Linked DNA regions of Homo sapiens: region 1 is linked to region 2. Evidence: fine-mapped expression QTL. A gene starts in region 2. The other region holds a variant in brackets. All regions are shown on one strand. Distances are from middle to middle.

What was found. PIP is the estimated chance that this variant, and not a neighbour inherited with it, causes the effect.
Region 1: its variant is fine-mapped to the expression of EIF3L in whole blood (TOPMed, PIP above 0.99).

The regions. Positions count from the first base shown.
Region 1 is chr22:37,906,487-37,918,373 of GRCh38, reverse strand. It overlaps MICALL1 (MICAL like 1), which reads right to left. Exons shown (of 16, transcript NM_033386.4): 1 at 11,806-11,887; 2 at 6,374-6,422; 3 at 5,882-6,023; 4 at 579-667. Among named protein-coding and RNA genes, the nearest start is that of MICALL1, 6.1 kb to the right of the region's middle. RefSeq lists enhancers at 1-8, 805-1,305, 7,342-8,135, 10,125-10,938, 10,939-11,754 and 1 more and silencers at 270-432, 11,525-11,634, 11,745-11,887. The variant T/C (reference allele first, on the strand shown) is at 7,171.
Region 2 is chr22:37,845,255-37,855,830 of GRCh38, reverse strand. It overlaps EIF3L (eukaryotic translation initiation factor 3 subunit L), which reads right to left and starts at 6,412. Exons shown (of 13, transcript NM_016091.4): 1 at 6,349-6,412; 2 at 5,768-5,816; 3 at 4,341-4,551; 4 at 187-266. The coding sequence starts at 6,381. MIR659 (microRNA 659) reads left to right here and starts at 8,057; the gene lies at 8,057-8,153. It also overlaps a transcript of ANKRD54 not described here. RefSeq lists a silencer at 3,235-3,529 and enhancers at 5,726-6,247, 6,248-6,770, 6,771-7,293.

The DNA of each region.
Region 1 (11,887 bases), 62 kb before region 2:
ATGTGAAGGGCTGGTGTCACTTCCTCTAAGCCCTTCAAACAGGTGACTGGCAGTTGGCCCCCACTTCCTTACTAAGTAACCTTGGACAAATGACTAAACCTCACTGAGCCTCAGTTTCCTCATCTGTATACCAGGGCCCATAATGCTGACCTCCCTGGGTTGTTGAGAGGATTAAAGGAAATCAAGCCGGGAAGTTTACAGCTGTCTCCACAGGAATCAAGGGGAATCTTTGCTTTACTACGTGTGTAACTCCTGACAGTCCCATGATGGTGAAGTCAGCATTGTGGACTGCCCTCTCTCCCCTTGCCAGAGCTGGCATCTCCTGACCCCACCTGAGTCCTGGAGAAGGAGGTAGGGCTCCCTGCCCATAGAACGGGACTGGCCTCCTGACCCATGCCTCACTGCCCCAGTCAGGGACACCTGTTCCCAAAGCCAATAGGGCAGGGACAGAGAACAAGCACCCTCTGAACACTGTCAGGGCTAACTTCCTCACATGACCCAGTCACTGCAATGATAGTCGTCCACATAACTCGCCCCCTCCACCCCTGGCCCTCCCACCTCTCCAGGTATCTGCCTACCTGAGCCACATCTTCTGGTTCCACTGGAGTGGGTGCTACAGACGGCGGGGAACAGGGTGCAAGGCCCTTTCTGGGTGGCGAGACACCAGCTGCCAAGAGATGAGAAAGGGGTCCTGAAGCAGGTGGAGATCCTGGAGTCCCAGGAGGTCCCAACCTGGCTGAAGATTTGAGACCTGTAGCCATCACCTAAAGGCAGACCACCTAATGCAGTGGGACAGGAGCTGGCTCCCGCTTCACACGGGCCCGGGGACGCTTCCAGTTTTAAGCCAAGTGCTGAGGGCAAGCCATGAACCTCACTGAACCTCCATCAAATGGGGAGAGTGACTCCTACTGCACAGAGCCAATCCGAACAATGGCGCAACAGTACGATCACAGAACACAGCACCCGCGTGTGGCTACACCAGCAGCTTCCCTGCCACCAGGGTAGAGGAGGTGAAGGAAAGGAAAAGAAAGGAACCATATGGTGCTGCCCTGACAGCTCAGGAAAGGCGCTGCCTCCTTGGGGTTGACAAGGAGCTGTCCTGCCTATCCCCAAGTGGGTATTGGGGGCCAGAACCCGGCCTGCACACCCCCTCACCAGAACAAACCCACCCACCCTGGGTTCCTCTAAGACTCAGCTCCTCAGGCCGGGCACAGTGGCTCACGTCTATAATCCCAGCACTTTGGGAGGCTGAGGTGGGTGGATCATTTGAGGTCAGGAGTTCAAGACCAGCCTGGCCAACATAGTGAAACACCATCTCTACTAAAAATACAAAAATCAGCTGGACATGGTGGTGCGCGCCTATAATCACAGCCACTCAGCCACTCGGAAGGCTAAGGCAGGAGAATCGCTCGAACCTGGGAGGTGGAGGTTACAGTGAGTTGAGATCGCGCCACTGCACTCCAGCCTGGGCAACCGAGCAAGACTCTGTCTCAAAAAAAGAAATAAATTCAATAACACTATGGTTGGTGCCAGGAGTGGCTCCAGCTGACTGGGGAGAGGCCCTTAGAAGCCACATGAAGAAGCTGGACTTCATCCTGACATTACTCCCCAACCCCTTTCTGATTTCCCACAGCCACTCGGCTTCCTTCACTCCTGCCCTGGCTCCCTGAGCAGGCTGCAGCTCCTCCAGGGTGGGGGTCTGTCTGTTGTGCCCGGGGTCACTGGCACCCACTGAGCGTGGTGGCACAGCTGAACACTCAGCACAGCACCACGACATCTCAGCCAGGGGCAGGCTCCAAACTTACCCAGTCTGGTAAAAAGTCAAGGCTAGTCAAAGTCACTCTTGAAATGCCTCCACTCGCCCAGAAAGTACAGTACAGGACCATCTGGGGGAGTCGAACAGCCAGCTTTGCCTCCAGAGTTGGAACACATCACTGTTTCCTTTGCTTAAGCAGCAGATGGGATAAAAATGGTTTGCATTTAGGGGCCAAGTTGTATGAAAGGCACAAACTGTACCTTTTCTTTTTTATTACAAAAGGCAGATTTATTAGAGAAGGTATGAAAATACATTGCGAGGCTGAAAATACAGGCAGCATAACAAAGGACTGTCTGCCACAAACTGTACCTTTATCAATGAGAATCCCTGCAGGGCGAGGGAGTGCCCATGCCCACACTCAGCACGGTAAGCTGTGCCCACCAGGGCTGCCCCTGCCCACCAGGCTGCCCAGAGAGGGCCAACGAATGAGCTGCGTACCACCAACAGCTGCCCACACCCCACCCACCCCGCAGAGTCCCAGAGATGAGCTCAGTAGAGAGAGATTCAGGTTTGGCCACAAGGAAGGCCGCAGGCTAAGGCTGAATTGCGATTCTAAGGAATCCAGCTAAACGCTAATCAGTGAAATAAGAAGTAGTAAGAATACTAATCTTGGCTGGGCGCAGTGGCTCACACCTGTAATCCCAGCACTTTGGGAGGCCAAGGTGGGTGGATCACTTGAGGTCAGAAATCCCAGACCAGACCGGCCATCATAGTGAAACCCTATCTCTACTAAAAATACAAAAATTAAGCCAGGCGTGGTGGTGCGCACCTGTAATCCCAGCTACTTGGGAGACTGAGGCATGAGAATCGCTTGAACATGGGAGGCAGAGGCTGCAGTCTGCCAAGGTTGTGCCACTGAGCTCCAGCCTGGATGACACAGCGAGACTCTGTCTCAAAAAAAAAAAAAAAAAAGAATACTAATCTAAATAGGTGCCAAACACTGGTTTATACATTTCCTCATTTACTCCTCAAGTCAACCCTGTGAGATGGGTGTTATTCCTATCCTCACTGCAAAAGGGAAACTGAGGCAGAGTGGTTAAATAACTGACCCATGGTCACCCAAAGAGGAAATGGCAGAGTGAAAATTTTGAGTCCATGCTCTTAACCCCAACCTTAGACTGCCTCTCACCAGAGCCTCTGGGGTCTGGAAATACTTTCATTTTGTTTTCTATTAAAATATACATAATGTTATTTGTTCAATTATTTTAATCCCTAGTGTTACATCAGGGGGAAGGGGTATAAGACATTATTTTAATTTTTCTGCTTTTGCCATGTTCTAAATTTTCTTGTTTATTTTTTCTGTTTAGGGATGGGGTCTCGCTCTGTTGCCCAGGCTGCAGTGCACTGGCGTGATCATAGCTCACCGCAGCCTCAAACTCCTGGCCTCAAGCAAACCTCCCATCTCAACCTCCCATGTAGCTAGGACTACAGGTGTGCCACCACTATGCCTGGTTAATTTTTTTATTTTTATTTTGGTAGAGACAGGTTCTTGCTATGTTGCCCAGTCTGGTCTCAACAGCAATCCACCTGCCTCGGCCTCCCAAAGTGCTGGGATTACAGGCATGAGCCACTTCACCCGGCTATTTTTTCTTTTTTTCCTAAAGTTATTTATTTATGGCTGGGCATAGTGGCTCATGCCTGTAATCCCAGCACTTTGGGAGGCCGAGAAGGGTAGATCCCTTGAGCTTAGGAGTTCAAGACCAACCTGGGTAACATGGTGATACTCCACCTCTACAAAAAATATAAAAGTTAGCTGGGTGTGGTTGCATGCACCAGTAGTCCCAGCTTCTCAGTAGGCTGAGATAGGAGGATCACCGCAGCCCAGGAAGGTTGAGGACGCATTGAGCTGTGATCATGCCACTGCACTCCAGCCTAGGCAACACAACAGAGTAAAACCCTGTCTCAAAAAAAATACACATATATGTGCGTGTGTGTGTGTGTGCGCGCACGCATATATACACATAATATATGTACATATATATGTATATGCATGTATATATATACATATATATATATAATGAAAGAAAAGATGGCTGGGTGCAGTGGCTCATGCCTGTAATCCCAGCACTTTGGGAGGCTGAGGTGGGTGGATCACCTGAGGTCAGGAATTCGAGACCAGCCTGGCCAACATGGTGAAACCCCGTCTCTACTAAAACTACAAAAATTAGCCGGGTGTGGTGGCGGGTGCCTGTAATCCCAGCTACTTGGGAGGCTAAAACAGGAGAATCGCTTGAACCCGGGAGGTAGAGGTTGCAGTGAGCTGAGACCGCGCCATTGCACTCCAGCCTGGGCAAGAAGAGTGAAACTCCATTTCAAAAAAAAAAAAGAAAGAAAAGAAAAGAAACCTCTGACTTCATAAAACACTTTAAAGAGTTGGGCCAGGGCCGGGCGCAGTGGCTCATGCCTGTAATCCTACCACTTTGGGAGGCCGAGGCAGGTGGATCGCCTGAGGTCAGGAGTTTGAGACCAGCCTGGCCAAAGTGGCGAAACCCCATCTCTACTAAAAATACAAAAATTAGCCGGACATGTTGGTGCATGCCTGTAATCCCAGCTACTCAGGAGGCTGAAGCAGGAGAATCACTTGAACCCCGAGGGCAGAGGTTGCAGTAAGCCGAGATCGCGCCATCGCACTCCAGCCTAGGCAACAAGAGCAAAACTCTGTATCAAAAAAAAAAAAAAAAGAGTTGGGCCAGAACTGTCTAGACCGACAGCAGAGGCAGGAGGGAGGGGCTGAAATGGGCTCTACTCAGACCCAGGGACAGCAGGAATCCAGCGTTGGATTCAGGACACCTGGATTCTCAACCCAGCTGTTCAGTTTGTCTGCTGTGTGATCTTGAGCTCCTTGCTTCCCCTCTCTAGGCCTATCTCATCTCTGCAGAAGGGGAGGCCCAGCTACCTGCAAGGGAGGTCCTTGCATGGGAATGCCCAGTGACCTCACTCAGAACCGAGTCACTTTGTAGCCCCTGCAACTCTGGTTCCCCAGTTCCCCAGCCTCTCAGCTCTCAGTCACTTCTGTGGAAGACAGCACAGCAGCCTCACCAGACAGAGCCACTTCCCTGCTGGAGGAAAAACCCAAGGAAGTGTCTGCAAACAGGAAGTGAGGGTGGGTGCCGGGGAGGTGGACTCCATGCAGCGGATGAACGCAACCTGCTGTGTCTCCTCTGATATGATTGTGTTCATTTTCTGGTGGGTGTGTTTGGTGTCTATCTCCCCCACGGGACTTCAGCAGTGATTACATTCACAGCTGCATCCCCAGAGCCCAGCACAGGCTCTTTTACTCAAGATATATGTCAGGCCGGGCACCAGTGGCTCACGTCTGTAGTCCCAGCACTTTTGGAGGCTGAGGCGGGCAGATCACCTGAGGTCAGGAGTTCAAGACCAGCCTGGCCAACATGGTGAAACCTCATCTCTACTAAAAATACCAAAAATTAGCCAGGTGTAGTGGTGGGTGCCTGTAATCCCAGCTACTCAGGAGGCTGAGACAGGAGAATTGCTTAAACTCAGGAAGCGGAGGTTGCAGTGAGACAAGATCGTGCCATTGCACTCTAGCCTGTGCAACAAGAGTGAAACTCCGTCTCAAAAAAAAAAAAAAAGTGGGACTGGGCACAGTGGCTCACGCCTGTAATCCCAGCACTTGGGGAGGCCAAGGCGGGCAGATCACGAGGTCAAGAGTTTGAGACCAGCCTGGCCAACATAGTGAAACCCTGTCTCTACTAAAGACACAAAAAATTAGCCGGGCGTGGTGCCGGGTGCCTGTAATCCCAGCTACTTGGGAGTCTGAGGCAGGAGGTTAAACCCAGGAGGCGGAGGTTGCAGTGAGCCGAGATCGTGCCATCGCAATCCAGCCTGGGTGACAGGGCAAGACTCCATCTCAAAAAAAAAAAGAGCGAAACTCTGTCTCAAAAAAAAAAAGAAATATTTCAATGAGTGAATTAATGAATAAGTAAATGAATGACACACTCCTCAGCAGCCTGTTTACAACTCAGAAAACCAGTAGCAAGCATCAGACATCCCCAGGGCCACCCCCTGGGCCAGCCTCCGTGAAACGCTGAGTCCCCCTCTCACCTTGGCCAGGACTGCAGAAGTGGTTGTAATACTGGGACACATAGGTCATGATGCTGAGGCAGTCAGGGACGCTCATGGAGACCATGTCATTGGGGTCCAGGAGAGCGGGGATCCCCAGCTCCTTCTCAGCCACTTCAAAGGCCTGGGGTGGTGACAGGTACAAGGGCGGGAGCAGCCGAAGCAGGAAGAGGAGGAGGCGTTAGGGGGCGACCCCTCAGCCTAGGCCCAGCTCCCTTCAGTGGGATGGGGTGACTGTGGGCTCCCCTCAGTATTAATCCCACCCAAGCACCACAGGATGGCCTGGAGAAAGGGGAAGCCTGGTGCTCCATGCATGAGGAGGCTGGTGGGAAGCAGAGGGTGGGGAAAGGTGCAGCCAGGGCCGGTGTACAAGGGCAGCCACCGTGCAAGACCCCTGCCCTCCCCACCAAACACACACACACACACACACACATACACAGAGCCTCTTGGGCTTCCACCTGTCCGGGAACTTACCAAACGGTTATTCTCGAAGACATTGTCCTTGGAAAGCGAATCAAAATCTCTGCAAGAGGCAAAGGGAGGAGGGTTGGTCAAGAGGGGAGGTGACTGGGAAATAGGGGCGGGGTCAGAGTCAGAAAGGAGCTGAACAGAGAAGACCTTGTCCCAGCCAGCATCAACCTCAGCAGGGTTGCTGGGGGGGAGTCTGTGGATTACTAAGGGGGAAACTGAGGCAGCAAACATTCGCTGCTAGAGCTGGAGCTGCCAGGGCAGGGCAGGGCATGAGATCACGGGCCCTGGAGGCATCCAAGCAGAGGCTAGGAAATCACTGGGAAGGGGTGAGGCTCAAGCCCAGGCTTTCAAGCTTAAGATCCTTTGCCTCTCTGCAGGAAGCCACCCCTGGAGTCCGTGGCAAAGACATAACTAAGACCCGCATGTGACCTCCCCCAGGGCGCAGTGCTGGGCTCCTCTGTCTCATTTACTTTCTTTTCACAGCAACTCTGTTTGGCAAGAATTGATCTCATTTTATAGATGAGGACACTGAGGCCTGGAGAAAGGAAGCCACCAGCCCTGGGAATCCACATGTCTGGCCCTCCCACTGCTCACAGGCCCCTGCAGGTGTGTCACACACTCGGAGTAGCCACACCAACTTGCTGCATCCCAACCCGGTCCAGCCTGCAGATGAATGTTTTTCTTAATGGGGCCGTGAATAGAAGAACAAGTTTGAACCAGAGTGGAAATGTACATACTCCGGAGCTGCTGGCATAGAACAGCTGGTTGGCCCCACTGGGCCACTCCTGGGGCAGCCTCCA[T/C]TGGGGAAGCAGTGAGGGATTTTCTAAACTAGGAAAGGTGAGAGGTGGCAGGGCCTGTCTGGGGGCCCCAGCACGGGACAGCTGGCTGGCCTGCAGGCTTTATTTATCCCCCTCCTCCCTCCCCACTCCAGGCCGCTGAAACCAGCAGAGACAGCTCAGTCTTCCCGCCGGGCAGCCTCCTGGGTGCATCCGCATGCAGCCTTGCCCTTCTATGGCTGAAAACTGCAGCCCTGACTGCCGGAGATGGGTGGGCAGAGGCAAGAGCAGGCCACGCCGCCTCTGAGGGCTGAATTCCCATGTGACCATGGGGTTGGGGGGATCAGCAGTCCTTCCAGCATTCATTGTCCCATGTGCAAATCAGGAAAAGCACTAATACCACCTCCCAAGCTGGTGGAGTCCCAGCTTGGTAAAGGGCAGGCCTCGCAGATATGAGGGAGCCAGGTAAGCACAGCCCCCTCCTCCTGCCCCCAACACTTTTCCAGGCAGGGGCCAGGGACTGTGAACCCTGGGCAGGAAAGAGTTGCTTGAGGACCTTGGAAGGGGTCTGGTGCCCCAGGGCTGGGTGGACGGGGAGAGGCAAGGTGACTATGTCTGGGCACCAGCTCCCTTTTTGCCACTCTGACCAGGCCACTTCCTTCTCCCCTGGGCTGCCTCCCTAGCTCCCCTTTTCTGCCACTGCCTCAGAGTGCGACCTTAGCAAGGTGTTTCACCTCTCGAAACCTCTGTCTCCCGGTCCGGTTCAGGACACTGCAACAGGGCGAGGAAAACACCATGGTACCCAGCCCCCAACAGAGGCTTTTTCCAAGACCAAATGAGACAAAAGCAACTTGTCTCAGCCGTTTATTTCGGTCACCCCAGAAGTGTTCCAAGAAGGCTGGGGTCACATTCTAGCTACTCTGTGCCCCCAACTCCCTACACAGTTCCCCAAATTTCGAAGATGCTCCGTAAATGTTTGTTGAATGAATCAATGTTGAAAACAGTGTGAAAACTGTAAAAAACCTTCAGGATCCTGCAGGTTTTCTTCCACCCCCATCTCTGTCCCTAATTAACATCTGTGTTTTGGTAACACATATATTTTCTGAGAGTCTTCAGAGGCCTGCGGAGTTCTACTTGGCTCTGGGGAAGATGAAGGACACAGAAATGAAACCCACATGGTCCACGCCCTCAAAGGAGCTTAAGCATGTCTGGATTTCGGGTGGTGCGGAGGGATGGCCCAGCCCCCACAACCCTCGTCCCAGCAGAGCCCTGGGCCAACACTGGGTTCACCCAGGCAGGGCCCACAGCCCCAGAAGCCTGAACCAATTTAGGAGATGATTCTTGCCCTCACTCTAGGCCACTCCTATTCTCACGGAGATCCTCCCAACCCATCACTGAGGACTTCCCTACACATTATGTGGGACCTGGGCCTCAGCTTCTCTCCTGTGCAATGCGCTGGCAATATTGCAAATGAATGCCTGGACATGATTCTGGATCTCAGAAGCGGAGCCACCCTCCCCTGCACATTTTTTCCAGCCACATCCCTCCCTTGCTTAAAACCTACGTGGTTGGCCAGGCGCGGTGGCTCACACCTATAATCCCAGCACTTTGGGAGGCCAAGGCAGGTGGATCACGAGGTCAGGAGATTGAGACCATCCTGACTAACACAGTGAAACCCCGTCTCTGCTAAAAATACAACAAATTAGCCAGGCATGGTGGCGGGCACCTGTAGTCCCAGCTACTCGGGAGGCTAAGGCAGGAGAATGGCGTGAACCCAAGAGGTGGAGCTTGCAGTGAGCAGAGATCATGCCACTGCACTCCAGCTTGGCTGACAGAGCGAGACTCCGTCTCAAAAAAAAAAACCTACGTGGCTCGGCCAGGCATGGTGGCTCACGCCTGTAATCCCAGCACTTTGGGAGGCCGAGGCAGGCGGATCACCTGAGGTCAGGAGTTCGAGACCAGCCTGGCCAACATGGTGAAACCCCATCTCTACTAAAAACTACAAAAATTAGCCAGGCATGGTGGTGCGTGCCTGTAATCCCAGCTACTTGGGAGGCTGAGGCAGGAGAATCGCTTGAATCCGGGAGGCAGAGGTTGTGGTGAGCCGAGATCACGCCACTGCACTCCAGCCTGGGTGACAGGCCTCCATCTCAAAAAAACAAAAACAAAAACAAAAAAAACCCTGCATGGTTCCCTGAGGCCCCTATCCATGCTCCTTAGCCAGCAAAAGCAGCTGTCAGCCATCTGTCCCAACTGCATCTCCCAACTCGCTACCTTGTGCTCCCCACTCAGCTACACAGCCTCCAGCTTTGCACACACCTCCCGCCCCTTGCCTTTGCTCAGATGGGGTCCCATGCCAGAACGTCCACCCAGCAGCCCTCACCTGGCTCCTGCCATCTCCTTGAAGACTATATTCTCCCTAGGAGGTCTCCCACCCCCAGCCCTCTGATAGGGTACATGGAATTGCCATCATCGTTTATACACGTTTCCCCTACAGGTGTGGGAGAGCGTGTAGGGTTGCCTGTTTTGTCGATTGGTACTTCCATTACCAGGTACAGTGTCCAGCACAGAGCAATATGACTCTACAAATACTGGTTGAATAAATGAAGAAATCAAACATTGTTATTGGGCCAGGCATGGTGGCTCATGCCTGTAATCCCAGCATTTTGGGAGGCTGAGGTAGGCAGATTACTTGAGCTCAAGAGTTCAAGACCAGCCTGGGCAACATGGTGAAAACCCATCTCTACAAATACAAACAAATTAGACAGGCGTGGTGGCGTGTGCCTGTGGTCCCAGCTACTAGGGAGGTTGAGGTGGGAGGATTGCTTGAGCCCGGGAGGTGGGGGCTGCAGTGAGCCATGACTGTGCCACTGCACTCCAGCCTGGGTGACAGAGTGAGACCCCATCTCAAAAAAATAAAAAACATTAAAAAAAAAAAAAGTAACATTAGTTACTCACAGTAACTAATGTTAAATGAATGCTTGTTATCTCATGCAATCCTCACATTTCTGTGAGCTGTGTCACATTATCAATCCCACCTCACAGATGAGGACACTGATGCCTGGAGAGAGCCCATGAGGACCCAAGGCCATGCGCCTAAGACATGGAGAAGCTAAACACAAACCAGGCGGCCTTTATTTACTTTGATGCCACCAGGCTCAGGCCCACCAAATGGCTTCACTTCACACCCAAGTCCCCTCCCACACTGGGTTTGTCCCTGCTTCCTGCCTCACTCCTGCCCCTCAAACAAAACAGAAGACCCCTTGGGCCCTCCCTTCCAATGCCCAGGTCTAACCCTGGTGCCCTTTTCCTCCATCCTTCTACCCCCTGCTCCTGGGCAACCAGGCATCAACCTTGTGCTTCCATTAGTATGGGTGTCACATGCCCCACAGCGGGCAGGGGCCCACCTACATGACCACCTCATCTTGTTCCCTTCTGTATCCACAGCCCCAAAACCCTCTCCTCCAGGGCCCAAGCCACCACCCACAGACACGGTACTGCAGGGTACATACAGGTAAACCAGGTGCACCTGCATCATGGAATCCTGAGGCAATCCCTTAGAAGCCTTCCCACATGCTGCCCTCGGACAGTGCAAATCTGGAGGTGGAACAGGCACAGAAAGCCTCCATCTGCCAGGCTGGGGGAGCCCTGGCAAGAGGGCTGCATGCGAAAGGGGTAGGGACCAGAACTCTCCTCCCTGATTCACAGGTGAGACCTGAAGTGCAAGGAATGGCACCAGATAAACTCACCCAGTGTTTTAGGAATGAAGGGACGAAAGGAGGAGAGGTTCCAGGGCTCAAGGCAGAGAGAGCAAAGACAGAGGCTCCAAGTCAACTGTTCCGGGGAGTCTGAATGCATTTTCCCATGAGAACCTCATTGGGCAGCTCTGGGCAGGAAGGGGCCATTTCACAACCTGCAGCACCCGGTTGGTGTCTATCAATCGGATCCTAGGAGTCTTCCCAACATTGCCGGCCTGTGACTCCTCTTGCGCGCCCCACCTGCGTGCCCCACTGAGGAGGGCTGCAGGGCCATCGAGCACACACCCGGGAGGCAGGGCTGCGTCCTAAGTTGGGGGGCGTGGGGAAAGCACAGGGTCTGTACATCCATTCATCCAACACCTGTTAGCCGAGGTCTCCTCTGTGCCGGGAACTGTGCTACTGTCCGGAGACAAGCTCCTATTTGGGGGTCAGAGAAGTGGGGGTTCACCTGCACACCCGGAGCAAGGGGCCACCCCGAGTGGGAAGCCTCGGGGGAGAGGGGAGGCCCGGCGAGCCCGTGGAGAAGAGTTTAGGGTAGGAGAGGCCCAGGGCCCCCAAAGAGGGCTCAACACCCCTTCAAAGAGGTCAAGGGCTTAGGGGTTCAGCGATCCTCGGCGGAAATCAGCGCTTTGTGGGCGGGGCCAGTGTCCCCGCGGAGGGACCAGCCTCGGGGGAGAGTTCGGGATCCCACGGGCGGGGTCAGGGCGGCCGGGCGGGGGAGGGGCGCCCTGGGCCGGGGTCTCAGGGACCCGCCCGGCGTCCGGGGCCGTCGGGGGGGTCGGCGTCTCCGTGTCCGGGGGCGGCGCCTGTCACCGCCCGGGCTTCGTGTTACTGAGGGGGGGCGGCGGTCGCGGCCCCAGCCCGCCCCGCGCCGCCCGCTCGCCCGGGGCCCCGCACTCACAGCAGGTCGGGCCGGTGCCGGTGCAGGATGGCGCAGAAGGCCAGGCCGTCCCGGAAGGAGCTGCTCAGGTCGCGGATCTCCA
Region 2 (10,576 bases):
AGATCTCTGTCCTCTCTTAAATCATCCAGCCTTCGACAAGTTATTTTGCCAAGGACCTACTACATACCAAGCACCAAGGAAACAAAATGGTGAGCAAAACAGACACAGACCCTCTTGAGCTTCCTGTCTAATGACTCAGCCACTGGATTCCACTCAGTGCACAAGATATAAAGAGCTCACACCTACCATTGCCAACCTGTGGAGCAATGGCTTCAGCCTCGGGCCAAGGTGTATTCTTGAAGAATCTTTCAGTCAGCTTGGTCCAGCTAAAAATCAAGAAAAAAATCTCTAAAATTCCAAAAGGACTGGAGAATGCCAATCCTAACATTTTACAGATGAGGACCCAGGCTTAGAAAGGGGAAGATGTCAAATAAACAGAGCTGAGGCCAAAGCCCTTCAAGCCCACAACTGTCCTCAACCCAACTCCACACTTCAATCTTTCTCAACACAAGAAAATATTGTTTTTGTATCAGTTAGGGACCCATCAAGCTTTTCAGGATAATCTCCTGCCTCTGTATCATTAACTATAGCCATATTTAACTGCTTGCTGTTTTCTGCTATAAGAACTACTTTTTTGGCCACCATTCTTTAACACAGCGTTTCCATCTCCTGGAGCACATCCAAACGTCTCTAAACACAGAAGCAAATCAGTCTGCTGCAGTCCAAGGCCACAACAGACCTACAGCATCCAATTTAAACACTGCTGCCTATCCAATCCAAACACTGCTACTTGACAAACCTGCAACAGGTTGTTTAATTTTCTTCTCCTGATGCCCTCAGCAGCTATTAATACTTTCCTCCAATCTCCTCAAGCCCCACCCCTCCTGCTTCTCTGGCTCTTTTAGTCCAACATATAAACATGCTCAAGTTCCCCTAAAAAACACTGAACAGGCCAGGCATGATGGCTCACGCCTGTAATCTCAACACTTTGGGAGGACAAGATAGGGGTATCGCTTGAACCCAGGAATTCAAGACAAGCCTGGACAATATAGGAAGGCCCTGTCTCTACGGGATGGGGGTTGGGGAGAAACACAGAAACAGAACAGAAAAGAAACACTGAAACAGGCCAGGCGCGCTGGCTCACACCCGTAATCTCAACACTTTGGGAGGCTGAGGCGGGTGGATCACTTGAGGTTAGGAGTTCCAGACCAGCCTGACCAACACGGTGAAACCCCGTCTCCACTAAAAATACAAAATTAGCCAGGCATGGTGGTGCACACCTATAATCCCAACTACTTGGGAAGCTGAGGCAGGAGAATCGCTTGGAGCCAGGAGGCGGAGGTTGCGATGAGCTGAGATTGCGCCATTGCACTCTAGCCTGGGCAACAAGAGCGAAATCCTGTCTCAAAAAACAAAAAACAAAAACAGAAAAAACACAGAAACAAAACACAAAGCCACTCAGTGACCCTTTATGTCCCCGATACTTACCAATTCCCCTTTCTCACCCCACTGCTCTCTGGCTGTTGCTTCCATCACTCTACTGACATTGACCTTGCTAAGGTTATCAAGGCCCTCCAAGTTACCAAATTCAACTGGCTTTTTTTCTCATCTGGACCTCACTAAAACATTTGGTGATACTCTCTTCCTCAGTTTCTTCTGCAGACTTTTTGGTTCCTGTGACATTTCTTTGCCAATTTACTATCTACTTTTCACTTTTCTTTCTGCCTCCTTTACTAGATCCTTTCTTTGCCTGCCCACCCATCCCTAAAGAAACATACTTCTTAAGGCACCAGCATTTCTTCTCACATTCTCCTAGAGAAAGACTTACAAGATGCTTGGCTTCAACTGTCATCTGTATCTGCGGGCACTGCCCAATGCAATAGCCACTAGCTACATGTGGCTACTATATAAGCAAAGAGTTAAATTTTAAATTTCAGTTAGTTGCCATTTAAGTTTAAAAACCAACACTTAACTCAGTATTGGAAAACTTTTAGGTCTATTTGGAATTACTCTACTATTTGAAGATTCAAATTTCAAATTTGAATTACTTTTCCAGTCATAAACTCTATAAAATCTAAACACAAAGCAAGTATTTCTGATACACACTGGATTTAGGAAACTTTAAGTATAAAGAAAAAAAAGGGCAAATATCCCCTTAATTTTTAAATACTGATTACATATAGAAATAATATTTTAAATAAATCTCCACTTCGCTTGGCTGAAAAATTAAAATTAATGTCTAGCTACATTTCTATTGAACATCAGGTCCATTTTTTAATTTTGAGAGAGGGTCTCGCTCCATTGTGCAGCTCACTGCAGCCTCAACCTCCCAGGCTCAAGTGATCCTCCCACCTCAGCCTCCCAACTAGCTGGGACTATAGGCATGCTGCCACCATGCCCCAGCTAATTTTTGTAGGCGCTGATTTATATACTTCTAATCAGAAAAGACCCGGGGAATAAAGAAAACACAGTTCAGCACACTTGCCTTTCAGGTCACCCACCTGGCCCTCTTCCAACTGTCCTTTCCTTTCTTTCATTCCTGTTCTAAAGCTTTTTAATAAACTTTCACTCCTGCTCTCAAACTTGCCTCCCTCTCTTCTTCTGCCTTGTGCCCCTCAGTCGAATTCTTTCTTGTTAGGAGTCAAGAACTGAGGATGCTGTCGACCCGTACAGATACAGACTCATCATCAGTAGCATTTTAGCCCTCAGTGTAATTCTTTCTTGTGAGGAGGCAAGAACTGAGGCTGCTGTAGACCTGTACAGATACGGACTCATCATCGGTAGCATTTTACCCCTCAGTCGAATTCTTTCTTTTGAGGAGGCAAGAACTGAGGCTGCTGGAGACCTGTACAGATACGGATTCATCATTGGTAGCATGTTTTGGTGTTGTGTCACTTCAACACCCTTCAGCTGCTAACCTCTTTTGGTGCCGCATGACTTGGATCCATTTGCTAGTGGTGAAAGACCTCGATGCTGCACCTTCTTCGGCTGGAGGTGTTCAACCTCCGAACAAGGTTTTCTCCCTTTCTCTCTCCTCACTAACTAACCCCCAGATCAATTCTTCTTGGTCATAAGTGACTCTGTTCCCATTGGCTGATCTCTCAGCTCAACCTAATGGGTGGCTTGCAGGGGCGGGAAGGACCTTGGAGTCCACACCAAGTAGAACTTAGGCTCACGAGAGTGGCAGGGGTGAGGCCTAAAACCATGCAATGTCTGAGGTTTCCTCTGCTTTTCAACTACAATCAGCTCTTTCAAAACAACAAAAAAAGAAAACACATGTCAGAGATCCTATTCATTGATCAATAGGCCTTTGGCTATTTGTTTTCTCTCCCTCATCCTTCTGACTTGCTTAAATTCTATTTCCTTGGTGAAGTCACTCCTGACTATCCCAGCTTTGACTGACCTATCTTATCTCTAACGCTCATTACACAACGGCAGCCCCTCAAAACCTGCGGAGTTCAGCTTGCTCTGATATGTACTGAAGGGCTGCATAGCACAGTTTAGAAATTAGGCTTTGGTGCCAGACACTGCAGGTTCAAATCTCAGCACATCCATTAAACTAGCTACATGACTTATTTCTGTGCTGTTTCCTCATCTGTAAAATGAGAAAAACTGCTACTTCATGGGCTTACTGTGAAGGGTAAATGAGTAAAAACACAAACAACACACTGAACATTGATGGATCTATCCTGGTAATAAAAACAAATGCTAATCATTATTATTATAATTGTTAATAGTGATATTATTTTAGGCTTTGTATAAATTTCTGAGGATATAAAGTCCAACAGGCCGGGCATGGTGGCTCACGCTTGTAATCCTAGCACTCTGGGAGGCCAACGGGGGTACATCACTTGAGGTCAGAAGTTCAAGACCAGCCTGGCCAACATGATGAAACCCCGTCTCTACTAAAAATACAAAAATTAGGCCAGGCATGGTGGCTCCCACCTGTAATCCCAGTGCTTTGGGAGGCTGAGGCGGGTGGATCACTTGAGGTCAGGGGTTCAACACACGCCTGGCCAACATGGTGAAATTCTGTCTCTACTAAAAATACAAAAAAATTAACTAGGCATGGTGGCACATGCCTGTAGTCCCAGCTACTCGGGAAGCTGAGGCTGGAGAATCACTTGAACCCAGGAGGCGGAGGTTGCAGTGAGCCGAGATCTTGCCACTGCACTCCAGCCTGGGCGACAGAGTGACACTCCGTTTCAAAAAATAAACAAATGCATAAATAAAATAAAGTCTAACAAAATAAAATGTCCCTAGCCTCAAGGACTCACAAAGACCCCCACCCCCCAACCCCCCCGAAAGTACTGTTTACAGAGTGCTCACCTCATTTGTAGGAACTATATTACCAGGCCAGTCCCACCCAGAAAGAGGCCCTTTCAGCCAGTAGCCCATACCTGTTCTCATAGATGTCCTGGATCTCATACACCTTCTGGTCAATGACATCACTGGAGACACGACTGGCCTGTAGCTCATACACTTTCTGGTCAATCAAATCTGAGACAGTTTTGTGGAAATACTGGATGAAGTTTTTGATCACCTCAGGGATCACCTGATAGGTTTGCTGTTCATACTGACGTTCATAAGCAAGGTCCTGCTTTGGATCTCCTGGAGGTTGGATACAACAAATACAGAGTATGCTCAAACCCACATATATGATAGAACGAAATGGCAAGACCACCCCAGAAACTAAACTCAGGTCTGCGTAAAATTCCCTTTTGAATACTCAGAGATACAAACATCTCAAGTCACTCCCAATCTCGTTGTCCCTGTTTCTTCAAAAATATTACCATGACTTAAAGTTATTTTTCACTTATTATCTGTTTTGCACCCTTCTCCCAAGTCTAGGAAGTCAGGAATCTCGTCTGTCTTGTACTCAGACATACCCTCAGGGCCTAGAAAAGTGTGCGTTGGAGGGGAGAGAGGCAAGACTGTTGGAAAGTAAGTGGTAACAGGTACTTAATATTTCTTGAATGAATAACTGTCACCTTTTAAATATATGACTGTGCCAAGTTACTACTAATAAACCTCTCTGCTATATTTTCTATTCTTTAGGAGACATTAACATACAGAACTGCTGTAAGGATTAAACAAAATATTTCATACAAAGTACTTAGAACAATGGATAACACTGACTACTAAGTCAAGTCACTATAACGTTTCAGGAAACCTCAGACACCTCCTAAAAAGATTTCATTCGGGCTTGGTTTGAATTACTTAAATTTTTCACATCAAGATTTTCTTCCTTGGGGCAGGCGCGGTGGCTCACGCCTGTAATCCCAGCACTTTGGGAGGTTGGGGCGGGTGGATCACCTGAGGTCAGGAGTTCAAGACCAGCCTGGACAACACGGCGAAACCTCGTCTCTATTAAAAAAATTTAAAAATTAGCTGGGAATGGTGGTGGGCGCCTGTAATCCCAGCTACTCAGGAGGCTGAGACAAGAGAACTACTGCTTGAACGAGGGACGCGGAGGTTGCAGTGAGCCGAGATCGCACCACTGCACTCCAGCCTGGGGGACAGAGGGAAACTCCATCTCAAAAACAAAAACAAAAACAAAAACAAAAAAGCTTTTCTTATTTGGCTAATAGTTTACACAAGAAAACCATAGCCAGGTAAGTAATCCTTCTCTTCCAAGACTGAGGTGGACTATGATAAAAAGCCTGGTTTATTAGGCTTTATAAAACCCCTCGCACTGGCAGCTAATGACTGACTCCAAACCTGGACCATCAAAGAGCAATTTTTGATGCCTGTCAGAGCTGGTTCTAAGACATTCCAAAGGAACTGATCCCTACGAGTACTCAGCCAGCCTAACCCGTGGTCTCACCTGTGTGCATATCATAGTCGCTGGGATAAGCGTAGGGGTCATAAGCCGCCTAGAAGGAAAGAGACACAGTCAAGGACAGCCGCCAAGTCGTGAATTCAAAACGCTCATCCTAGAGTCTAGATGCCAAGCAGAGAGCTAAGGATACAGAGGCGAATAAGACACTGTGCCTGCCTTTGAGGAACTCACACGCCTTAGAGAAAAGGGACAGTAAACAGACAATGACAATACAACATTACGGGTGCAATGAGGTGGAGCAAAGGACAAGAGGCTGTGGGAATCAGCGAGATTTGACCAGACGGAGCCTAGACCAAAAAAACTCAGGTGCAGAAACACAGAAACGTCTAACAGGCCTTAGTCTCCGGTCTTAGAAAGGGGAAGGACAAGCCAATCGAACACGCGAAGTGGGCGGGCAGAGCCAGGGTTGTCTAGGGACCGGGAACTGTGGGAGCAGCCTGAGGGCCGGGCGGGAGGTCGGCCGGAGCTGGCCGCGACCCGGAAGCTGCCTCGCGCCGGGACCCACATCCAGTGGTCCCAGAGATCACCCCGTCGTGGAGCCCACCGCGCCCTTACGGCCACCTTACCTCAGACTCATAATCATCAGCGGGATAAGACATGGCTGCCTCGCTTGCGAGCACCGCCGGAAAGAGCGAAATGAGCGGCCCGCGCCTGCGTCCTGAGGCCGGAAGTTCAGCCCCACTCGGGCCTGCCGGGAAACCGGAAGCCTTTCCGAGGCCTCTGGCCATCTGAGACAGCCATATCCAGAAGGAAGAGGAGCCGCGTTCCGTGGCTCACACCTGTAACCCCACCAGTTTGGGAGGCCGAGGCGGGCGGATCACCTGAGGCTGAGGCCGGGGGTTTGAGACCAGCCTGACCAATATGGAGAAACCCCGTCTCTACTAAAAATACAAAATTAGCCGGGAGTGGTGGCGCATGCCTGTAATTCCAGCTACTCGGGAGGCTGAGGCAGGAGAGTCGCTTGAACCCGGGAGGCGGAGGTTGCGGTGAGCCGAGATCGCGCCATTGCACTCTAGCCTGGGCAACAAGAGGGAAAACTCCGTCTAAAAAGAATAAGAGGGTTACAAGTAGCCTGAATTTTCCTCTCTTCAAATAGGGACTTCTCAAAGAAGGTGAATCTATAATAGTGGTGTAGATTCAGATATAAGGACACGTATTTGGCGTAAAGGAGAGGCAAAGTTAGAGGAACCAGAAAGAATGCTACACAAAAGATGGCCGGCTTCTCGCGTGAAGGAAGATTCGGATACGGGGGCCTGATGGATTTAGTTGTAGGCGGTTTGCCTGCAGCGAGTAAATTATTCAAACGTTCGGACTTCACAAGACTAAACTTACTGGGGATAAAAATTGAGATTTGGCCGGGCGCGATGGCTCACGCCTGTAATCCCTACACTTTGGGAGGCCGAGGCGGGTGGATGATCTGAGATCAGGAGTTCGAGACCAGCCTGGCCGAAATGGCGAAACCCCGTCTCTATTAAAAATACAAAAATTAGCCGGGAGTGGTAGCGTCCGCCTGTAATCCCAGCTACTCAGGAGGCTGAAGCAGGAGAATCGGTGGAACCTGAGAGGCAGAGGCTGTAGTGAGCCGAGATCGCGCCACTGCACTCCAGCCTGGGCGACAGAGCAAGACTCCGTCTAAAAAAAAAAAGAAAAAAAAAAATTGAGATTTGGTCCCATGCAGTAAGAGGGAATGGAGAACAGGAGCCACCCAACTTTGGACATTAAAGTTGGAGCAGGCAAAGATGAGGCCAGCTGTGTCGCGAAGCCTGGGACATGGGCAGCTCTTGAGTACACCGGGTTCGAGGCCAGGGGAAACCCTCAAGGTAGAGATGGGGTTATAAAGCAAACCAATAAAAACCGGTGTATGAGTCAAGGAGAGGCCTTAGTTTAGCCATCTGCCCATACACAACACCTAGTGGAAATCCGAGTTCCAGTCCCTACTCCGCCACTGATTTGCTGTGTGACCAGGACTCTCTGGGTCCCTTTGTCACGCCGCCCTCCTTGCTTTTCCCACTGAGGCACGCTCCACCTCTGGGATTTTGCACTCACTGTTATCCAAGTCTAGAATCGAATGCAGTGGCACCCCCACTCCCATTCCCTTCCCCATCGGTATCTGCATGGCACCTTCAGGTGTCTGCTCTGATGCCATCCACTCAACATCCTATTGAGAATTGCAATGCCCAGCCCCAACTCCCTATGCTGCGTTCTTGTTTTGTGTTTCTTCCTTGTGCTGTCACCAGAGGTGACACAAATTTGGAAATAATGGAGCTTAAGCTTTACCGACCCTCGATTTGGTTCAGGACCTTCCCTGAACCAAGGAAGAGTCACAGTCTCTTCCTTGGTTCAGGGAGGGTCCCCAACAATGTCCTCATGGTCCTTTGCTTTTGTAAAATTTGTGAAATATTTTTATTGCTGAAACCACCTTTGCAAAAATTGTAACAGTGAGAAAATAATGACAGTGAAAGAGATCTGATCTAACCAACCCTCATCTTCCATTTAATCTTCAGACTGCCCTTAATCATTCCTGGCTCGAACCGAGCTAACTTTGGGAGACATTTAGTTTCTAGTTTAAATAATAACCCTTCTCCGAGGCCTGGCACAGTGGTTCACACCTGTAATCCCAGCACTTTGGGAGGCCAAGGCAGATGGATCACCTGAGGTCAGGAGTTCGAGACCAGCCTGGCCAACATAGTGAAACCCCGTCTCTACTAAAAATATAAAATTAGCCGGGCATGGTGGCATATGCCTGTAGTCCCAGCTACTCGGGAGGCTGAGGCAGGAGAATCACTTGAACCTAGGAGGCGGAGGTTGTGGTGAGCCAAGATTGCACCACTGCACTCCAGCCTGGGCAACAAGAGCAAAACTGCCTCAAAAAAAAAAAGAAAAAAGAAAAGAAATTGGCCGGGCGCGGTGGCTCACGCCTGTAATCCCAGCACTTTGGGAGGCCGAGGCGGGTGGATCATGAGGTCAGGAGATCGAGACCATCCCGGCTAAAATGGTGAAACCCCGTCTCTACTAAAAATACAAAAAATTAGCCGGGCGTAGTGGCGGGCGCCTGTAGTCCCAGCTACTTGGGAGGCTGAGGCAGGAGAATGGCGTGAACCCGGGAGGCGGAGCTTGCAGTGAGCCGAGATCCTGCCACTGCACTCCAGCCTGGGCGACAGAGCGAGACTCCGTCTCAAAAAAAAAAAAAAGAAAAGAAATTACCTGAAATCTTATAGTCCATATATGACAGGAATTTGATACAGGTTGCTCCAATTTGACAACAATTCTCAAAATGTTCATGACATTTGAGAAGGAGTTGTGAAGTCAGAAGATTTTCATGGGGCTGGATGTGGTGGCTCATGCCAGCACTTTGGGAGGCCAAGGTGGGAGGATCACTTGAGCTCAGGAGCTCAAGATCAGCCTGGGCAATATAGTGAGACCCCATCTTAAAAAAAAATTGGGGCCCAGGCACTGTGGCTCACTCCTGTAATCTCAGCATTTTGGGATGTGGAGGCAGGAGGATCCCTTGAGGCGAGGAGTTCAAGACCAGCCTGAACAAAAAAGTGAGACCATGTCTACAAAAAATCAAAAAAATAATTAGCCAGGCACGGTGGTACACATCTGTGGCCCCAGCTACTCAGGAGGCTGAGGTGGGAGGAAAGCTTGAGTGCAGTGAGCTGTGATCACACCACTGCACTCCAGCCTGAGTGACAGTGAGAGATCCTGTCTCAGCACTGTATCCATTATGGGGCAGACGAGGAGAGTACAAATAAACATAGCATTTTTTTCCATATAGTACAATGATAAACCTCACAATGGCGACTGCAAACACTGAAAATTCTGGAAGTGCTTTTCCAATTGTAAGAGAAAGATTACTTTTTTTTTTCTTTTTGAGATGGAGTCTTTCTCTGTCGCCCAGACTGGAGTGCAGTGGTGCGATCTCGGCTCACCGCAAGCTCTGCCTCCTGGGTTCACGCCATTCTCCTGCCTCAGCCTCCTGAGTAGCTGGGACTAAAGGTGCCCACCACCACACCAGGCTAATTTTTTTGTATTTTTAGTAGAGACGGGGTTTCACCATGTTAGCCAGAATGGTCTCAATCTCCTGACCTCGTGATCTGCCTGCCTCAGCCTCCCAAAATGCTGGGATTACAGGCGTGAGCCACAGCGCCAGGCCTTTTTTTTGTTTTTGTTTCTTTCTGAGATGGAGTCTCGCTCTGTCACCCAGGCTGGAGTGCCATGGTGCGATCTCAGCTCACCGCAACCTCTGCCTCCCAGGTTCAAGCTACTCTCCTGCCTCAGTGTCCTGAATAGCTGGGATTACAGGCGTGCGCCACCACACCCAGCTAATTTTTGTATTTTTAGTAGAAACGAGGTTTCATCATGTTGGCCAGGCTTGTCTTGAACTCCCGACCTTGTCATCTGCCCATTTTGGCCTCCCAAAGTGCTGGGATTACAGGCGTGACCCACCGTGCGGAAAGATTACATTTTAACTGGGTTGAGTGGGAGGGTTTATATATGGAAAGAACTTTTGCCAGGACACAAGACCTGGTCCGGTGAGAGCTGGGCAACTGTGAATGAGTCTCTTCCCTCTGCTTTTCAACTCCTCACCTATAAAATAGGGATGGTCCTTCTTGTCTACTTTATAGAAGTGCTTGTGGGGTACGGGATTGTGAGAAGTTTTATGAAAACGTGCACCCATGAAATGTTGCTTGAGGAACACTTATTTGTTTCCTGGTCTTCTCCCATTGGATTGTGAGCATCTCAGGGGCACCAAGTCTGATCCTGTGTCCAGGACCTAGCAGTTACCTGGCT